3 linked regions of the Homo sapiens genome follow. The protein of the gene in region 1 purifies or fractionates together with the protein of each later gene. This does not show direct contact. Each region holds a gene or a part of one and is shown in the gene's direction. Other genes may lie near its edges. The genes, in order: PRM2, IPO5 and ZNF638.

The links.
Region 2: the proteins of PRM2 (region 1) and IPO5 purify together in Homo sapiens (affinity purification with mass spectrometry; one large-scale study listed by BioGRID and IntAct). This does not show direct contact.
Region 3: the proteins of PRM2 (region 1) and ZNF638 purify together in Homo sapiens (affinity purification with mass spectrometry; one large-scale study listed by BioGRID and IntAct). This does not show direct contact.

What each region holds. Positions count from the first base shown.
Region 1 is NC_000016.10:11,275,033-11,278,029, reverse strand, and holds PRM2 (protamine-2), read left to right. Parts: upstream 1-1,549; 5' UTR 1,550-1,659; coding exon 1,660-1,930; coding exon of another isoform or gene 1,931-1,968; exon of another isoform or gene 1,969-1,977; intron 1,978-2,048; coding exon of another isoform or gene 2,049-2,092; coding exon 2,093-2,130; coding exon of another isoform or gene 2,131-2,200; 3' UTR 2,201-2,391; downstream 2,392-2,997.
Region 2 is NC_000013.11:98,012,560-98,016,214, forward strand, and holds part of IPO5 (importin-5), read left to right. Parts: intron 1-1,482; coding exon 1,483-1,655; intron 1,656-2,970; coding exon 2,971-3,082; intron 3,083-3,166; coding exon 3,167-3,222; intron 3,223-3,655. UniProt on the Homo sapiens protein: Functions in nuclear protein import as nuclear transport receptor. Serves as receptor for nuclear localization signals (NLS) in cargo substrates.
Region 3 is NC_000002.12:71,352,142-71,355,796, forward strand, and holds part of ZNF638 (zinc finger protein 638), read left to right. Parts: intron 1-3,577; coding exon 3,578-3,639; intron 3,640-3,655.

The sequences.
Region 1 (2,997 bases):
CCTGTAAGGATCTGAAGATTAAGCCTCCTGAATTTGTTTCTTATTGCCACTGTGACAGATCATCACAAATTTTGTAGCTTTAAACAACATAAATGCATTATCTTACAGGTCTGCAGGTCAGAATTCTGAAAGAAGTCTCATGGGGCTAAAATCAAGGGGTCAGCAGGGCTGTGTTCCTCCTGGATGCACGAGGGGAGGATAACCCATTTCCTTGTCCATCCCAGCTTCTAGAGGCCGCCTGCATCCCTTGGCTTATAGCCTCTCCCTCCATCTTCAAAGCCAGCAGTGTGGTGTCTCCCAGTTTCTCTTCCTGTGACCCTCCTGCCTCCCTATTCTCTCTTCTAAGGACCCTCGTGACTGCACTGGGCCAACCCAGATCATCTGGGATGATCTCTGCATCTTCAAGTCCTTAAATTTGTGTATCTGCCACATTCCCACATTCTCCCTGCCCTCCATGAAAGGGAAACTGGTTTTGCAGTTTCTGTGATTCTGATCCCGGACTTTAATGGGATCATCAAAGTTCAATGAGAAGCCCCGGCAAGGCCGAGCGGGAGGGGAGAAGATGAATATTTTGGAGGCGGAGAGGGGAGCATTCCCTGGGCTAGGGAGGAGGTGGAGAGCCAAGGGTATGACTAAAACCAGGCTGTCTCCGTCTGAATGCTGGCCCGGCCTGGCCTTCTCAGCAGAGTGGCCTTGAGCAACTCAACTTCTTCATGCCTGTTTGCCCCACAGAAAATGAGGATTGTAAGAGTGAGGAATGCAAGGGTGGTGGCTCACACCTGTAATCCCAGCACTCTGGGAGGCCGACATGGGAGGCTCACTGAGGCCAGGAGTGTGAGACCAGCCAGGGCAACATGGTGAAACCCTATCTATCTCCACAAAAAATACAAAAAATTAGCTGGGAGTGGCAGCACACGCCTATAGTCCCAGCTACTCGGGAGGCTGAGGTGGCAGGATCATCTGAGCTGGAGGGGTAGAGGCTGCTATGATCCATGATTGCACAACTGCACTCCAGCCTGGGCGACAGACAGTGCCTCAAAACAAAAAGAGGAGAGAGAGAGAGAGAGAGAGAGAGAGAGAGAATGAGTGAATGTATGGGAAATAAATGAATCAATGCTTGGCACATAGGAGCTATTAGGGAACTGTTTGCTGCTGTTGCCATCTTAACAGTAAGCTGTGTGCACAGAGATCCAAGCACGGAAGTCCCTTCCACATGGTGGCTGTGGCACAGCAGTGAGTTGGCAAGGAAGCTTCCAAATGACAATGTGCGCACCCACCGGCTTGGGGAGATGAGGGCTTGGATTAGGCAATAAAACACCTGCCATCTGTATGGTTCACCTACTGCAAGAGACAGAGGACATGCTTTACAGGCAAGGCAAGGGGGTCTCTCGCCCTTCCAGCCCTGCAGCTTGGGTGCCAGGGCCCTGCTAGTTGTGACCCCTGGCCCTGTGCTGCCCTCACAGAGGAGGCTGGGCAGGGTGGGGACTGGGCGGGGCCGCAGAGTCATAGTGGGCGCCCCCTTTATATACAAGCTCCCGGGGAGCCTTGCAGACCAGACCAACAGTAACACCAAGGGCAGGTGGGCAGGCCTCCGCCCTCCTCCCCTACTCCAGGGCCCACTGCAGCCTCAGCCCAGGAGCCACCAGATCTCCCAACACCATGGTCCGATACCGCGTGAGGAGCCTGAGCGAACGCTCGCACGAGGTGTACAGGCAGCAGTTGCATGGGCAAGAGCAAGGACACCACGGCCAAGAGGAGCAAGGGCTGAGCCCGGAGCACGTCGAGGTCTACGAGAGGACCCATGGCCAGTCTCACTATAGGCGCAGACACTGCTCTCGAAGGAGGCTGCACCGGATCCACAGGCGGCAGCATCGCTCCTGCAGAAGGCGCAAAAGACGCTCCTGCAGGCACCGGAGGAGGCATCGCAGAGGTCTGCCTGCGCCCCCGCCTTGCCCTGCATGTCCCTGACCACCCCAGGCACAGGAGGGAGGCGGGGACCCACCCCACCTGACAAAAGCTCCAGCCCCCTAACCCCCGTCCCCACCCAGAGTCCCTAGGTGACCCCCTCAACCAGAACTTTCTTTCCCAAAAGGCTGCAGAACCAGGAAGAGAACATGCAGAAGGCACTAAGCTTCCTGGGCCCCTCACCCCCAGCTGGAAATTAAGAAAAAGTCGCCCGAAACACCAAGTGAGGCCATAGCAATTCCCCTACATCAAATGCTCAAGCCCCCAGCTGGAAGTTAAGAGAAAGTCACCTGCCCAAGAAACACCGAGTGAGGCCATAGCAACTCCCCTACATCAAATGCTCAAGCCCTGAGTTGCCGCCGAGAAGCCCACAAGATCTGAGTGAAACGAGCAAAAGTCACCTGCCCAATAAAGCTTGACAAGACACTCGCTGGCCTGTCGGGTTTTCTTTGCACGAATCACACAAACCTGGCTTCCCTCACGCCCAGGGCGGGTAGAGGCTTCTCTGCAGCCCTTCCTCAGAGGCAGGTAGGGCGGGAGTTCTGATGCTCTCAGGACACCTAGGAGAGGGTTACTGTGCCTGGGAGGCCACCCTATGATGCTGTCCTGTCTATTGTGCATCCTTCCATGGTGTCAAAGGCCACATTAGTCTGTCTGGATCCCCCTCCAGTGAAGAACCTGATCCTACCTCATGAAAGGAGAAAATGGTTAGAACAGATCGAGTCCTAATTAAGTCACAAAGATGCCAAGGCACCTTGTGGCCATATTTAAATGCCTACTGTGTGCCACAGTTTAAAAACACAACCCATCTTGAGTGTTGGGTGGTTGGAAGTGTAAACGGTGGGGGCAGAGGTGGGGGCACTGCTCAGTGCAGGCCACAGCTTCGAGGTGGGAAACAGGTCTGGCATGCTCCAGCAACAACTTGGTCAGCACAGAGACGGCAAAAGGCAAGGAGTAGATGAATGCAGAGTAATGGGCTGCGCTGTGTGAGGCCTGTGCTGGCTGAAGCCTCTGGAGACCCAGGCAGAATCC
Region 2 (3,655 bases), on another chromosome or scaffold:
GCTTTCTGTGGCCCACTTAAGGATTTAAGGATAATTAGCAAATGATTACAATTATATATAGTTGCTACTTTCCCCAAATATCTTTTGGTAAACGTTAAGAAAATAAGACTTTTATTTTAAGAGATGGTGTCTCACTCTGTCACCTAGGCTGGAGTGCAGTGGCGTGATCAGGACGCACTGAAACCACAACTTCCCAAGTAGCTGGGACCCAGGTGCACAACACCAAGCCCAGCTAGATTTGATTTTTTTTTTTTTTTTTTTTTTTTTTAAGAGATAAGGTCTGCCTATGTTGCCCAGGCTGGTCTCAAACTCCTGGGCTCAAGCAGTCCTCCTGCCTTGGCCCCACAAAGTTATGGGATTACACACCTGAGCACTGTGCCTGGCAAGACCTGTCTTAATAGATTAGAGAACCACTGATAGATGGTCAGCTTTCTGTAGCAGTGAGAACCCTACATTTCAAATGTGGATAGCACCTTTGCGGGGAAACATCACTTGGCACATCTGCATTCTTTTTTGACACAGGGTCTCACTCTGTTGCCCAGGCTAGAGTGCATGGCACGATCTTAGCTCACTGCAACCTCCACCTCCCAAGTTCAAGCGATTCTTCTGCCTCAGCCTCCTGAGCAGCTGGGATCACAGACATGCGCTACCATGCCCAGCTAATTTTTTGTATTTTTTGTTTGTTTGTTTTTGTTTTTAAGTAGAGACGGGCTTTCACCACGTTGGCCAGGCAGGTCTCGAACTCCTGACCTCAGGTGATCCACCCACATCTGCGTTCCAATATCTTTCTCAACATAATGATAGCCGTAATTAATATTTTCCAGTACATTTTTATGCCTTTACACACGAGAGTGGTAGACAGACACAAACCCAGATCTGTCTGACTCCAAAGCCCGTTTGTCATCATTCCTTTTACGGTATCCTATAGTGGTATCCTTTACAGAAGACAGCTTTTACCCAACAAAGACTTAACTTCCCAGGATGCCAGAGGACAAAGCGGGATTGCTTTTAAGAGGAAGTTATCAAGACCTTATTTTATAAATGAGATTAGATAGGGAAAGGCAATTTAATCTTTATTAAAAACTGAAAAGGCCAGCATAGGAAGAGGTCCTCGGTGGTCTTTTTCAGGGAAATACTTCAGTTGCTTTTATTAGAAACAGATAGTACCTAAGGTTTTGAGGTAGGTACAGCTTAAGGCATGCTAATGGTCATGGGTCCTTCCATAGTCATTTTTGTATTTTGGTTTACATTTGAGCAATAGGCAGCCCTTCACTGCTGCTGGACTCATTCCTGCCACTATTACAGGTGACAGAGGAGACAGGAGGTATGTCTTTTCTATTTTTATACATGCTTTATATTTAACACAAGCTCTTGGGTATCTTAGATAAACAGAAGTTGCCTAGCACTCCTTTTAGTGCATTGAACCCTTTAACATTTAAGCAAAATAATAAACAGTCTTTTGAGGTTCCTTAACAATGAAACGTGTTCGAGTGGCAGCAGCGGAATCCATGCCTCTTCTCCTGGAGTGTGCAAGAGTCCGTGGTCCTGAGTATCTCACACAGATGTGGCATTTTATGTGTGATGCTCTAATTAAGGCCATTGGTACAGAACCAGATTCAGACGTCCTCTCAGAAATAATGCATTCTTTTGCAAAGGTGAATATTTTTCTCTTAAAAAATATGTATAAGGTTGTATGTTCATTTATTAGTCTTGCTAAAAGTAAAAAAAAAAAATTTGAGACAGGGTATTGCTCTGTCACCCAGGCTGGAGTGCAGTGGCGCAATCGCAGCTCACTGCAACCTCCACCTCCTGGGTTCAAGCAATTCTCATGCCTCATCCTTCCAAGTAGTTGGGATTATAGGCATGCACCACCACACCTGGCTACTTTTTGTATTTTTAGTAGATGTTCCTCAGGTCTCAAACTCCTGGCCTCAGGTGATCCACCTCGGCCTCCCAGAGTGCTGGGATTGCAGATGTAAGGCAGCTAAATAAATTTTTATATGCTATAGTGTATGATTTGTTAAAAAATAAAAATGTTAAATTTTTTGTTTTAATATTTTGGTATTATTATGTTTGTTTTAAAGAGGGTAAATTTGCCTTGGAAGGGCAGTATAGGTAGAGGGAATGATATGGGCAGCAGCATGGAAGCATGCATTCTTTGGAAAAAGAGAAGAAATTCTGAATACTCTAGTATTTTAGTCTTGCACTTAATAATCCAACTATAGAAGCTTGGGTATCATCTCCAGTTTCTGTTCTTTACACTTTCCTCAATTCTTCTCTTTTTTTTTTTTTTCATTGCCCCATCTCTTTTTCATGCCATTGAAATAGCCTCACTTGGGCTACTCCAGATGTCTCCTTTCTTTTCCTCTCAGTTCATTCTCCTTTCCTCAAGCACTGCCTTCCTCTTCATTGAGTCACTTCCTTTCTCATACAGTGTCACTCCCATTTTGCACAACTCTAGTTTGCTCCAATCTTGATTGAAGATTTACAGTTTCTCAGCATCTTTATATGTCCTTATTTACACTCCTGTAATTCAGAATTGCTTCTGATTTTCCAAAGACAGCATGCTTCCATACCTTTGCCTATATTTTATTTCTTCTACCTCTAATGCCCTTCCTTCAGTGTTCTTGTATGTTGTGTGTACGGAGTATGGATATAGCAATTGTGTTCCTTAGGAGCTGGTTGTGTGTGTGTGTGTGTGTGTGTGTGTGTTTTCCATCTTTGAATCCTCAGTACCAAGCATGATGCCTGGCACCTAGGTATGCTCAGTAGTGTTCAAAAGAAAATATTTTTTTCTAACTCCAATCTCTAAAATGCTGTCATTCTAACAAATACAAGCTAAGCATATGTAAATAATCTTCCAGGATACTGAACTGTGTTCATTTTTCCATATGATTCTTAGTGGAGTTTAACTTTGGACTCCAAACACCCCAAATCTTATGGATTGCTTTCTTTCCTCAACCTCATTAGTGCATTGAAGTAATGGGAGATGGATGCCTTAATAATGAACACTTTGAAGAACTGGGAGGTATATTGAAAGCAAAGCTTGAAGAACATTTTAAAAATCAAGAATTACGACAAGGTAAGTTTTCCATGCTTTTATTTCTGAATATAATCCTTGACCATCTTGGCAATCATTTAAAACATTTATTTGGGTGTGTTTTAGTTAAAAGACAAGATGAAGACTATGATGAACAGGTCGAAGAGTCACTACAAGATGAGGTAAGTTATTCCCTTTGGAACTTACTTACGTGACCACTTGCATCTGAAAGACTTGTAAATGCCTCAATTTCTGATTTATGTGACTTGTCATTCTGATGTAATTATCAGTCTTTAGCAGAGGAGTCAGATATATTTCCTCTCTTAATTTATGAATAAGTAATTTGAAATTAAACTGATATGTCTTTCGGTGCTATGTGCATTTTGTTGTAATACCTCACTCAACAAAACACCTTGAGGTTTACCTAGTTCATTTACATACTGCTCACAACAACCATTTGTATTTTGTGGTGCTTTCACTATATTAAAGATGAGTAACCTAAAATTCCAGTGTTAAATGATTGCCTAGAGTCACACTGTTGACGGTCTGGGGCCTTTTTCACCATGTTACTTAGTTCTCTCATCAAACCACCTAGGACTGTCAAGCATACTTCAT
Region 3 (3,655 bases), on another chromosome or scaffold:
AAGATGGGTCTTGAATTGAGGCTTTAGATATGCCTGTATAAAGAGGAGGAGGGGGCCGGGCACAGTGGCTCACTGCCTGTAATCCCAGCACTTTGGGAGGCCGAGACAGGTGGATCACCTGAGGTCAGGAGTTCAAGACCACCCTTACTGACATGGTGAAATCCTGTCTCTACTAAAAATACAAGAATTAGCCGGGTGTGGTCATGCGCACCTGTAATTCCAGCTACTCAGGAGGCTGAGGCAGAGAATCGCTTGAACCCAGGAGGCAGAAGGTTGCAGTGAGCCGAGATCGCGCCGCTGCACTCCAGCCTGGGTGACAGAGCGAGACTCCATCTCAAAAAAAATAAAAAAAATAAAAAAAAAAAAAAAGAAGAGGAGGGTTGGCGGCAACAACATACAGAGAGGCAGAGGTCCGGAGAGAAGACTACATTTCATTGTGGTAGGAGGCAGTTGGGAAAGAGTGATGAGCGTATTAGAAATAAGTACGAAAGGCTTTGAAGAGCTAGCCTAGGAGTTTAGACTTGAGGTGAGAGGCATTAGAAAGCTAAATAAGTTTGTTGATAAGTGAAGTGACATGTTGGAAGTATATTTTAGGGAGATCTGACTGAAGTATGCAGGGTAAATAGAAATGAGATGATGTGGAGTAGGACTTCCACTTGGAAGCTTCTTTAATTGTTCAAGTATAAGATGGTAAAAACCTGGGTTAATAGGATAAAAGTAAAAATTTGAGAGGAAAGGAAATCATTTAGTCATCATTAGAGCTCACCTAGATAGATTGCCATTAAAAAACAGACACACCTTTTAACAGCACAACAGAATGGGGCTCATCTAAGTAATGAATTTTTCACTACTAAGTGGCCAAATGATAGGGATTTGTGAAGATGGATTTCGATGGTACACACTGCCTCTCGTTTCTGTGATATATTTTGCAGCCTCGTAAGTGTTCCTGTGTGTGTATATATGACATAAATATGAAGCCAATAAATGTAAATTACCAATTGTAAACTTTTTCCTATTGAGTAAATCTGACAATATGTATATTCCCCACCTTCGAGTCTTTGAAACTATAGCTGTGAAGATGTACTTTGAGAACGTGAAATGTATTTGCTTGTTAAATTGGGGTTCAGATTTTAAAGGAGAAACTTCCCTTGGTTTAGGAGCTGTGTCATAATGACTGAAATAATTCAGTTTGAGAAAGTACCGACAATAAAAAATTGTTGAGAATAGTGAGTGAGCCCTGATACGAGTAGTTATATATTTTCAGTTTCATTCTGAGCCTGCCTAATTCTGTGCAGTCCTTGCAGCATCTCCTGCTAGTAGGTAATTATCACTTTTTCTCTGGGGAGGCAGTGCTGCTTTTGGACTATAATGTGGAAACTATTACTAGAGAGTCTAGAAGTTGGGGTGGGATGGGTGTGTTTACTGAGCTTAAAGCAAGTAATGTCAATTTGTGAAGCAAGCCTAAGAATGTGTGTATGTGTGTTGAACTGAGAAGAGTATATCTTAAATAGGGCAGCCATCATCTTCAGGTGATAGTTGCTGTAAGAATGATATCCTGTATTACTGTATCTTCCTATTTTTTCAAGAAAAGCTGGAAATCTGGACTTGCGGGTAAAAATCTCTGGATTATTAAATGTTGGCAACGTATTCAGATAAAACACTTTATGGTTCAAATAAATCATGCCCAACCCACTGCCTGCACCAGTGTGTCTGTTTGATGTAAACAGTGTCCAATTAATATTAAAAATATGGGTTTTAGTACTACTAGAGACTCTTCTTCTAGCTTTCTATTTGTATTATTAAACAGGATGTACAAACATTTCTTTTTTGTAGTCCACAATCAGTTCCATGGCTTAATGAAATAGTTTAGGATTTGTCATACCTTGTTGCTGAGTTTAAATTGATGCTGAGCATTGCAAATCAGTGTACCTTCTTTCAGATAGTTCTTGCCAAGGCAGAATCCAAAATTATTGTCAACCGTGGTTTTAACTGTGGAAACTTCTAATGACCTAAACTAAAATGTATTTCAAATGGAAACAAATAATAACATTTTCCTTAAGCAAAGTGTTGAAATACGAAGTTATTTAGTAAGTTTTCTGCCTTTCCAAATGCTGGAGGAACAGTAAAACATTGAGTAACATACATATTGCTTTTAACTAATTGTTTCACCTTGGAAACTGTATCTTTGTAAACTGTATTGGCTTTTTTTTTTTTTTAACCAGATGTATCTTCCAGAGTTATTTATGGGTACACATTGTAATTTTAGGACAGATTTATTTGTAAATGAAGTAATGTATAAGAAAGCATTTTGGGCTGGGCATGGTGGCTCACGCCTGTAATCCTAACACTTTTGGGAGGCCGAGGCAGGTGGATCACCTGAGGTCAGGAGTTCGAGACCAGCCTGACAAACATGGTGAAACCCTGTCTCTATTAAAAATACAAAAATTCACCAGGCTTGGTGGCACATGCCTGTTAATTCCAGCTACTAGGGAGGCTGAGGCAGGAGAATCACTTGAACCTAGGAGGTGGAGAGTGCAGTGATCCGAGATCGCCTCATTGCACTCCAGCCTAGGCAGCAAGAGTGAAACTGTCTCAAAAAAAAAAGAAAAGAAAAAAAAAAAAGAAGCATTTCGTTAATTGTAAAGCTCAAAGCTCTATATGTAAGGGATATTGTATCTTTGAAATGTTGTTACTTTTAAATTTTGAAAATAGATTTGATCAGTAGCATTTTTCCCCATGTTTTTCCTAATCTTATTTGCCAGTATAGTGAGTACCTTGTATGGAATGGTACTGGTCTATCAGGTAGCATTTTTATTTTATTTTTATTTTTATTTTTATTTTTTTGGAGACAGAGTCTCGCTCTGTCGCCCAGGCTGGAGTGCAGTGGCGCAATCTCGGCTCACTGCAAGCTCCGCCTCCCGGGTTCACGCCATTCTCCTGCGTCAGCCTCCTGAGTCGCTGGGGCTACAGGTGCCCGCCACAACGCCTGGCTAATTTTTTGTATTTTTAGTAGAGACAGGGTTTCACAGTAGTGTCGATCTCCTGAACTCGTGATCCGCCCTCCTTGGCCTCCCAAAGTGCTGGGATTACAGGCGTGAGCCACTGCGCCCGGCGGCATTTTTTGATTGTTGATGTTGTTAGCGTGAATTTTAGAGGTATTTGTCATTGAAATATTGTATTTTGAAGATGCTGTTTCACAGATACCGTTTTACTTATAGATTTTTTGGTGTTTTCTGGTGTGTTGTTTTTATATTTGCAGTAAGTTTTTTCTGATCCATGCTTTTATTTTCTCCAAGTTTATATATTGATTTCAAAATGAGCATCCACGGGTATGATTTTGAAAATGTTTTCTGTACTAAAATATTTTCAAATGGGATCAGTGAGGTATGGTATTAAGTGCATTTGTTTCAAGGCCTTTAATTTTTGTTTGTGAAAATTTTACTGAGCAGCCAAATGCTATTTATGAGTACGTTTGTTTAATTTTTGAACAAAATATTATTTGTCTTTTTTAAAAGCCTAATTCATTAGTCAACATGAGGAATATTCTAATTTCAACACTTTTCTCCTTTTACAATAGGATTGGATTCAGCATCAAAATACATCTACTCATATTGAGAGCTGTCGACAGTTACGTCAACAGTAAGAATATATTTTT